2 separate regions of the Homo sapiens genome follow, and region 2 is linked to region 1. The links come from fine-mapping of genetic effects on gene expression. A gene starts in region 1. The other region holds a variant in brackets. All regions are shown on one strand. Distances are from middle to middle. Region 1 holds the start of LINS1 (lines homolog 1). Region 2 overlaps LINS1 (lines homolog 1).

Region 1 (5,500 bases):
GAAAATGGTTGTTTAACTCAAAGGCAGGATTTTTAATGAAAAACAAATGGCCAGAAATACAAAGAACTAGGAATTAGGAGACAACTCTGTTTCTAGGCTCTTCACCAACAAGTTCTTAGGCCCCCATCTCTCTACTTAACTATCATTTAGCAAATACACCATATGAATTGCATGGGTGCCGAGTCTGCTATAAGAATGAATATGTTCTCCACAACAATTTACATATTTATTCATTTCTCTCTCCCTCTTTTTCCTTCTTTTTGGGAGTTCAAAACTTCTTGACTCTATAATTAGTAAATGTTATAAAACTGAACTTGTACATTATATTTGAACTGTTAAAAAGCAAAATTTGAGGCTGGGTGCAGTGGCTCACACCTGTAATCCCAGCACTCTGGGAGGCCGAGGCGGGTGGATCACCTGAGGTCAGAGGTTCGAGACCAGCCTGGCCAACGTGGTAAAACCCCATCTCCACTAAAAATACAAAAATTAGCTGGGTGTGGTGGAGTGTGTCTGTAGTCCCAGGTACTCAGGAGGCTGGGACAGGAGAACTGCTTGAACCTGGGAGGCGGAGGTTGCAGTGAGCCAAGCTCGCACCACTGTACTCCAGCCTGGGCGACAGAGGGAGACTCCATCTCAAAAACAAAAACAAACAAAATTTGAACAAATTTAAAGATGTAAATGGCTTTTATTAGCAATTTATGAATCTGGCAGCATCTCAACTAAAAATTTAGAAACGGTGTTCTGATTAGCTGAGCAGAGGTGGGCTGAAAACGGTTGAAGAAGCAAAAAGAGAATAAAAGACAGATTGGTCATTTCAAAGTTAAACTTTCCTCACAGAGACCAAATGGAGGAGAGACTTCTTTATCATGCTGGCTCAGGTAAATCAGGCCTCCTTGACTCCTTGCTGTGTATCTTCTGGATTTTTTGACAACTGGCCCATTTCTAAGTTGTTTGATTATGTGACACCTAGCACCAGCAACTCCATTCTGATTTGGCCTGGTCTGTTGGGCCTAGTGCAGGGGTTTAATCTAAAACAATGGCTTCCTATACATTTCATTTAACAATACTAATAAAATACCGCTTTTATTTTATTTGTTTACATTGGAGTCCTGCTGTTAAGCAAAAAAAAAAAAAAAAAAAACAGGGAGAAATCATGGTAGAATCGAAAGACCGAAAGCTACTAAAAATTGATAGCATTTAATAGTCCTGAATAAGTTGTTTCTAATTATAATTCAGCTACTAATTTCAAGAAGAAATGGAAATTTAGAAAGTTGAAATTATGAAATATGATTGCTGGGAAGTATAATGGGACAAAAATTAAAAAGCTGAATCTATCTTCACTGCCACTACTGCACTTCTACTCTGGACAACTGCAACCGATCCCTTCCAAAGTGGTTGTATCCAGGCCCACCCTACACCCACTTCCTTCTGAAAAACCAATCCACTTTCCTTAGGATACAGTCCAAACTCCTAAACAAGGCTTACCAAGGCCCTTCAAGATCTGACTCTCGGCGTCTTCTCATCTCTATGCCCCACTCCCCAGTCTCATTACCAGTCATTTTCCTACCACTCTGCTTCAGCTACCCTAGCCTTCTTTCTGGCAGTTCCTGTAAACAGCAAAGCATATTCTAGCATCAGAGGCTTTGCATTTCTAATTCTCTCTGCTGGCAAAATTCTCTCCCTAGATCTTGGCATGGCTGGCTCTTTGTCATTCAGATCCCTGCTCAAATGTCACTTCCTCAGAGACCTTTCCTATCTGTCTTAGTCCGTTTCCTGTTGCTTATAAAATAATTCCTAAAACTCGGTAATTTATAAAGAAAAGTAATTTATTGTCTAGTTTTGGAGGCTGGGAAGTCTAAGACTGACGGACCACGAGACAGCACCGCAAAGTATCACGTGGCCAGGGGGCTGAGCAGGCTCACGAGTTGTCAAGTCTCTCCTTAAAAAGCCACCAGTTCTACCTCCGTGATAACCCATTAATCCATGAATAGATCAATCCACTCGTGAAGACAGAACCCTCACGGTCCAACCACCTCTTAAAGACTCTACCTCTCAGTACTGCCACATTGGGGATTAAATTTCAACATGAGTTTTGAAGGGGACAGATATTCACACCATAGCACTACCTATCTAATACAGCCCATCACGTCCTGGTCAAAATCGATTCCACCATTCTGCTTGATTTTCCTCATATAACCCATCCCTATCTGATAATTTTGTGTTTGTTTCCCCGAAATCACTATCTTGTTCACTGTTGTCTCCCCAGGGACTAGAACAGTGGCCAGTAAACACTTGCTAATGAATAAAGTGCTTAACAAACGTGTCTTGATCAGTCTATCTCGCGTTTTCCCCACGACCCCTCTCCATTCATTCACAGGAACCCGCCAACGTTGCTATCCTTTCAGGAAGGTCCTTGGATCGTCATCGCTATCCCAAAGAGAGTCCGTTCTCCCACTTCAGGCGAGGCATTGCCAGCCTGGAAGCTAACGGGGTCTCAAGGACCGACAGCCGCGCCAAGACCGGGCACTTGCGTCTGACAAGCGCTGAACAGGGGCGGAGAAACAAGGCACCCCTCTACTCGCTTCCTGGAGCCTGCCGCCCTCCCAACCTTAAGCCCTGAACCAGGCTCTCATTTGGCCGCACTCGTGCCTCCCCTGCTGCCAGCACGGCGGCCGGTCCCGGTTACCTGCCTGGGATCTGGCTCAGGCGAACTCTCTTCACACCGCCATTTGAGGGAACACAAATGCCCGCTCTGGGCCACCGTAGTTCACAGAAAGTACAAGCTGGCACCTCCTCCCGCATGCGCAGAGACCGCCTTCGGCGAATAGTGTCTCTTAGCAACGGCTTTGAGTCCCTCCGCCAGGGGCGGAGCCTCGGAAGCCACCACGGGGAAGCTGTAAGGGGAAGTGAGTGAGACCAATCGGAGACGAATCTCTGCCCCGTTCGGCACGCCTCCCTTAACTGTCGCGAATGCAAAGGCAACTTTACGGCAGGCAGAGGGTGGGGGCTGCCGGGGGTAAGGAGGAGAGAAGGAAGCAACCAACCAACCAAGTCGTCCCTACTCCCTCCACCCCCACCCATCCCGGACCTGGTTTACGGCTCCAGGCTCAGGCTCCACTGCGGGCGCTGATTGGTTGTTGAAGGCTTGGTCCCATCCCAGTGACCCCAAAGTGCTGAAGGGAGGGGGCGGGGGTGGCCCAGTGCAAAGTGCATCCCGAAAGCCCCCTGTCCGGAGACCCCACGGCTGGCACTTCGGGCCCCGTATGACCTGGGACCTCGCCGTCCCGAGACCTCCTGGGTCCCTCCGTAGCTGGAAGCCTCCGGCCCGGAGCGCGGCAGCCCCCTGCTCCGAGCCCTGGACCGGGACTGCCCCCCCACCCGAGCCAGGACTTCCTCCCTGCCTCCCTGCACCTCTGCCCCAAGGCTGCCCGGCGGCCGGGATCGCCACCTCCTGCCTTCTCGGCTGTTCGGATGTTCGCCGGGCTGGGGCCGTGAGGCACCGAGGAGGATCAGGAACACCAGGGTCCGGCCCTGCCTGGGGTATTTCTTCAATGGAGAAGTTGGTGAGTGTAGAGGAGGCTGAAAGGAGGAAGAGAAGCAGCAGCTGAGGAGACAGGTAAAGTCCTTTACTTCCCCCGAGGGGAAGAGTGCTGGCTGGGAGGGTAGGAGGGAGGAAAATCTCTGCTTTTTCTTGCCTGCCCTTGCCACTCTCCAGCCCCTTTCCTGAGCTCCCCCCTCCCCACCTCTGAGACACTACACCACTCACTGGTTTCTGTTTTTCTAGGTTTGAGCTGGCTGAAGAAGACGCGAAAGCAGGAAGAGGTCTGCCCACCTATCAGAGAAGCAGAAGGCACAGTGCCTCTGACCAGCATCGTCTGTAAAGGTAATGAGCCAGCCCTCCCCTCCCCCGTTGTTTATTCCTGGCCCCTACCTCATTAAGCAGTGGTTTATTTTCAGGGTGGTTGCCTGGGAATGCAACCTTTCCTACCCCCCCCACCCCCACCCCCAGTTTCCCAGGAAAAACAAAAACATTACCCGTGCCTGATACTTAACATTTTATAACTTCTCTACCCAGGACAGTATTTTCCCACTTTCTTTCTGTACAGTGTGTTTCTGTGTTTTTCATTATCTTTTGGTACACTGTGCCATTTACTCTGCTCTGAGGCTTTGAGACCTTTTTGTAGCTACCCTCCCTTCCTTACTCTCATAGGAATTCCTCAATTCCTTGTTAATTGCTTGTTAATTCTGAATGACTTTCCTTTTTAATTAAACCACAATTTACTGTTTTCCCCCTTACTCTTTCCTATCACCTTTCTTCTACCTGCATCAGAAAAATCTTTTGAGTTATCTAACTGACAACGATTTGGTAGAGAAAGGTAAATTATTGGCCTGAGATTTATGAGTTTCAGAAAATAGTTTGATTTTATTTCCTACTAGAAAGCCAACCTGTGTACCTTAAGAGTGTGAATGGTATGAAGACAACATTATTACCCTGAAGCACTTAGGCATAATTAACTCTTTGGGCTTTCTGTGTGTTTGTGTGTGACAAATGTGGATGGGCTTTGAAACTTATAAAGATACAATGTTTCTTACACCTCAGATTTTCTAGGAGAACTTTTAAAAATTTGCACAATATCTTATTAATCGTTTGACTCAGGAATTTAAAAACAAAGGAACCTTTTGGTGTGTTTACATATCTGGGTCTTAATTTTAGCACTCTATAAAAAAGATTTCTCATTTTAAAACTTTTACGTAGAGTTTGCTGGATTGAAATTTAAGCATCTAATTCATGTGATCACATTTCTGCTGCCATATTTTGTTGCTGCTTCTGAAAATGCTCTGAAAGTAAACTTAGGACATTAGTGTAATTCCTAAAGGGGGGATATAAGCATGGAAATTATACAAGGTTTAATTCCAAAATTAGCCAAATGGATGACTTTTTTAACATCCAGTAGCAAAAGTATAAAGTGACTTGTTAATCTGAGTTATTTTAATATCCCAAATTGTTTAGGGAATTTTTGTTACAAGGAAGTGCTTAAAATAGCAGAAGTTAATATTTTTGATTTCCTATGTTCCACTGGACTTTCTGCCCTCCACAAAAAGAAATTAGTATCTTTACTGATTCTGTTAATTCTTAAGACATAGCTAAAGAGATAAAGACATAGCTTTTAAGGGGATCTGAGGTATGCATATTCTTGAGACATGGAACTGCATGCCAAAAGAAGAGATTCTAGGGAATAGGATTTAGAATCAGTATCTACCAATGACTGTTCCCTGTTGAAAACTTAGGGCAGCTTTTGTATGTATATGTAGGGAATCAGGAGTACTAGACTACATCATTTCAGTAAAAGCTACCCGGAAATCTTTAAAGGCTAATTTTTATTATGTAAGTATGGAAGTTGTCAGGGAGATGGCCTAATGATTACTTCAGAACTTTTAAAAAATGCTAAAATATTTGAAGTATGTTCTAAAGATCAAAATGAAGTACTGTGTTTTGTAT
Region 2 (5,266 bases), 34 kb before region 1:
GAATGGTGAAGAACGGATGGGGGAAGGCTTCACAATCTAACACTGAAGATGGGGCTTGATGAATGAATATGTAAGAGCCAAGAGTTGTGCAAGGAACAGTGGATGGGGAGAAAACCACAGACAGCCTGGAGAAGCAGGTTGGGGCCAGTTGCACAAGGCCCTGCATAACCTGTTTACCATACAATTTATTGTTTGACCAGTGTTTGCTAATCTCACTGTTCTAGCATATCAGGCGTGTCAGAGAATTATGAGGAGTCAAAGTATTTTGTTACTAATAATAGCTGAAATGTGGGTACTTAACTTTTTTTTGAGATGGAGTTTTGCTCTTGTTGCCCAAGCTGGAGTGCAATGGAGCGATCTCAGCTCACTGCAGCCTCTGCCTCTGGGGTTCAAGCGATTCTCCTGCCTCAGCCTCCCATGTAGCTGGGATTATGGGTGTGTGCCACCATACCTGGCTGGTTTTTTGTATTTTTAGTAGAGACGGGGTTTCACTATGTTGGCCAGGCTGGTCTCGAACTCCTGACCTCAGGTGATCCACCCGCCTCAGCCTCCCAAAGTGCTGGGATTACAGGCGTGAGCCACCATGCCTGGCCAGGTACTTGACATTTTAAAAATAAATCAGGACACACTCCCAAATGATGTTGAACAAAAGAATACATAATCTATGACTCCATTTATAAAAGAAAGAGAAAACCAGGCAAAGATTGTCTCTGTTGTCTCAGTTCATGACACAGTTACCTTCAGGGGTGGACAGTGACAGGGAGAGGATTCAAGAGGGACTTCTGGGTGCCTCATGCTATTTCTTGATCTGGGGACTGGCTCCACAGGTGTGCTGTTTCTGAAAATTCAACAAGCTGTATACTTATAGTGCACTTTTCTGTATCTCTTCTGCTTTAAAATAAGTCAGGTGCACAGCACCATGTGCTCACTTGTATTTCCATATTCTTTTACTGGAAGGGGTGAGGTTACAGACTCCTCTTGTGTTGTACTCTGGGAATTCACTGTGCAGACATGCATCAATAGTTTTGTGTTCCTTTAAGAAGTAACTCTGGGAATAGCGCTTAGATGCTCAGAAAGGCCAAGGATAGTGATCACACCAGCCAAGGGTCACCTTTAGCAAGAGCAGGGCTTAGTGAGTGTGTGATGAATTGACTTACACTCGAGTTAGTTATAAATGTAGAGATTCTGAAACACCAACTTCGCATATCTGTAAGATTGCTTTTCCCTCATTTTACATGTAATGAGGGGCTGACAGTTCCTTGCTAACCTTATAGAGAAACACAAGTCAAAACCACATCTGCATAAGCATGAGTTATAATGCATTCAACATTTATGTACCCTTAGGAACAAGAGTCGATTTTTTTTTCCCAGTTATTTCCATCAAAAAACAGCCATGTGTCACATGACAGGGACATGTTCTGAGAAATGAGCTGTAAGGCAATTTTGTTGTCATGTCATGTATGTCACAGAGTATACTCAACAAACCTAGATGGCATAGCCTACTACACACCTAGGCTATATGGTATAGCCCATTGCTCCTAGGCTACAAACCTGTACACAGCATGTTACTGTACTGAATACTGTAGGCAACTGTAACACAATAGTAAGTATGCGTGTATCTAAACATGCCTAAACATAGGACAGTCACAGTAAAAATAACGGCTTGATAGTCTTATGGGACCACTGTACTATGTGGTCTGTTATTGAAACATCCTAATGCAGTGCTGCATGTATCCCACTAAAAATAGTACAAAAAGATGAGACTTTGTCTTCCACATCAGACCTGTCTCCCAAGGCAACCACTATTATGACTTTCTTATGTAGTCTTACATACATATTTTATACATGCACAAAAGCATATATATGAATGTGTATTACTCCCGCCCTGCTTCTTTCCCTAAATAATTGCAAGCCCCATGTATTTACTTGTTTTTTACTGGAGATGTTTCACATCCACAAACGTGCATAGAACGCATCTACCATTCCACTGACTATACAAATTCTGACTTACTTTACCAGGTATTTCTAGTAAAACTCTAAAACCTTAACATTTTTTACAAACTATGTGGCATCCTTGAATACACATTCTTTGACGTGCTTTTTCAATTACGGTAGAAACTGCCTTAACGCATAGCCTCACCGACAGCATGTTAAAACGCAAACCTTTTGACCTTTGCATTGCTATTTGGCTAACACTGGTACTTCGCTGTTATTTTAATCGGCAACCTTCTATTTAGCTCCACTGATTTTTCCATGTCTACCTGAATTAAGTACTAAACTGTTTCGAATACCATAGCCTTAATATATATTTTAATGTGCGGTAGGTTTAGTCTTTGTTCTGTTTCTCTGCAAAGAGATCATTAAAAAAAAATGTACAGGCAATATTTTAGACTGCCTTAATGCCAGACTTCGCAGCACAATATAGCTATTGCTCCTATTACACAAACATATTACAATGGAATTTACGGCTTCCCCTCAAGAATATGGAACATAATTATTCATGTCACAATTTTAAATAGGAAAATTAGTGATTAAATTTTTTTTTAGAAAGAATCATGTTCATACAGTAGGCCAGGTATAATCACTTCTCAAAGAAACGGCTAAGATTTTACATTTGTAATATATCGCTTTCTGTGTAAATACCCCAGAAGGAAATAGTAACTGTATTTGGTTAGTGACTCTCCTGGATTCAAGTCCATCAAGGACACATGAAAGTGGCCATATCTGGGATTAGGGTCTTTGCAGCTGTCATCAAGTTGAGATCATACTGGATGAGGGTAGGTCCTAGTCCAATGACCGATGTCCTTGTAGGAGGGAAACTGGACACAGACACAGGAAAATGCCATGTGAGGCAGGAACTGGAGTGACGCCACTACAAGACAAGGGACACCATGGCTGGCTGGCTGCCACCAGAAGCCAGAAAGGGGCAGGGTGGGATTCTTCTCCAGACCCTGAGGGCATTGCCCTGCTGAAGCCTGAGTTTGGATTCTGGCCTCCAAAACTATGAGGATAATTCCAGGTGTCTGAAGCTGCGGCACACGTGGCAAGTTGTTACGGCAGCCCTAGCTGAGGAACGCAATCACCACC[C/T]CCGATTTTGTGTCACTTAGAACTGCCATAAATCTCCAGTGGTATATAGCTATAATGAGTGACTTGTCACTTGATGTCTCTTTTTCAGTCACTAGGTTGCTTCCAATAAGGCAAAAAGTAAGAACTTGTCTAGAAAACCCAGCCGGGCACAGTGGCTCATGCCTGTAATCCCAGCACTTCGGGAGGGCGGACAGGCGGATCACTTGAGGTCAGGAGTTTGAGACCAGCCTGGCAACATGGTGAAACCCCCGTCTCTACTAAAAATACAAAAATTAGCTGGGCGTGGTGGCGGGCACCTGTAATTCCAGCTACTCGGGAGACTGAGGCAGGAGAATTGCTTGAACCCAGGAGGTGGAGGTTGCAGTGAGTCGAGTCACGCCACTGCACTCCGGCCTGAGCGACAGAATGAGATTCTGTCTCAAAAAAAAAAAAAAAAAAGAAAACCCTTTTATGGTGATGATTTTATACTATTACCTCATTGAGACATAATTTATATTAAGGAAAAACAATACCTGGAAAATAAAATGTCAATGTTTTACAAAGTGTTCATAGTTTTATTACTTATCACCTCTATGTATTTTAACAACTTCAAAAGTGCAGTTGGATTATATGGGAAAAGATTTTTCTTTTGCAAACGGCAGATGGCATCTTGTAGTTCCTGGAAGCATTTTACTATTCTGTAAAATATTCCCACTTCAGAGACGACATCATTTGGGGCTACTTCACAATCAAAGGAGAAGGCAGTATCAAATTCTTTCAGAACCAGAGGCCTTGATGGAGGCTCAAGGCTAAATTCTTTTTTATCCCTGCTTGTCCCAGCTGCATCCTGAATCTCCTTAGTTGCTTGCTGGTGTAAAGATGTCTGTTTACTGTTAGCTAAACACTGCTCTGTGGATTCCACGTCAGAATCGTCAGAGCTGTCGTAATCTACCAGACTTTGAGAGGCCCGGGGGGAAGACAGACTAGAAGCACACATGGTGTGAGCCCCCTTGGACATCACAGCTTTCAGTGGTTCAGAGGGAGCATCGGAAGCCCAGGAGTGCCGAGCACACACATCTCTGTGACTATGAGGAGCAGTCAAACGATGGGGTATTGTTTGGTTGGAGCTTTGGTCTTGGACAAGTGAGGGGACACAGCCACAAATACTTATGTCATATTTAGATTCAGTTGCATCAAAGTTATTGCAAATGGTGAAAAAATTATCCCAGTCCTTTTGCAGTAATTTTAAATATCTAACAAAATATTCAAGAAAACAGGTTTCTGATGAAATCAAAAAGTCAAGAAGAACTGTGGAATCAAATCCTATATTTTTCAAGAAGAACAAGAAAATACAGTGAGGATTATAGCCATTTTCATGTGTGTGATGGTCCCACATTTCTTTTCCCTGAGTCAAGCTTTCAGTGGCTTCACATCCTCTGAAAATGAAGATAATGGAGAATGCAGATTAATGACCTTACAAAAATAAACAGTTTTACCAGATATAATTCACATACCATAAATTAACCTATTAGATTACTTTTAAATCTATGCATCACTTCTTAAAAGAAAAAATTTCAAAACCCATTCCCTTCCCCATAAGCTCTAAAGAAATCTGACTCAGTAAAGCAAAATCCACTGACTTTGGCAGTTCTAGTTTTTGTCTGCCCAATAAAAGTTACCTGTTGTTCTTTCTCTCGACATCAGAACTCCTCATTCTTATAGGTAACCAATTCCATGTGGTAAGATAATTCCTAAACCTCCTTCCTTACCCTCAACAAGGGTGGGCATGTGACCCAGATTGACCAATCAGAGCACTCCATGCTCCTGGCCACAATGACTGGTTCTGACAAGGCTCTGTGACCCAAGTGGGTTAATCAGGTCTCCCCTGGGACTTTTGCTGGAGCTATGGAAGATTATAACTGTAAGGCTGAGGTACGCCTTGAACTGCCGGTGGCCATGCCTTGAGAATGAATTCAAAACTGTGAGACAGAGAAAAATTGAGAAGTGATTGATGACATGATTGATTATAGTCCCTGTACATATAGTTATACCTGACTCCAACTTGACCCTTTAGAATTCCCAGTTATGAGCCAATAAATGCTGGCTTTTGCTCAAATTAGAGTTGGTTTCTATCATTTACAACCAAAAAAATCTTAACAAATACAACTACATCTGAAAAAAACTATCTATGTTGTAAGCA

What was found. PIP is the estimated chance that this variant, and not a neighbour inherited with it, causes the effect.
Region 2: its variant is fine-mapped to the expression of LINS1 in whole blood (TOPMed, PIP above 0.99).

The regions. Positions count from the first base shown.
Region 1 is chr15:100,599,431-100,604,930 of GRCh38, forward strand. It overlaps LINS1 (lines homolog 1), which reads right to left and starts at 2,754. Exons shown (of 7, transcript NM_001040616.3): 1 at 2,691-2,754. ASB7 (ankyrin repeat and SOCS box containing 7) reads left to right here and starts at 3,159. Exons shown (of 6, transcript NM_198243.3): 1 at 3,159-3,616; 2 at 3,785-3,883. RefSeq lists an enhancer at 2,672-3,011 and silencers at 3,182-3,441, 3,892-3,941.
Region 2 is chr15:100,565,616-100,570,881 of GRCh38, forward strand. LINS1 (lines homolog 1) reads right to left here. Exons shown (of 7, transcript NM_001040616.3): 7 at 1,309-4,502. The coding sequence ends at 3,623. Among named protein-coding and RNA genes, the nearest start is that of LINS1, 34 kb to the right of the region's middle. The variant C/T (reference allele first, on the strand shown) is at 3,088.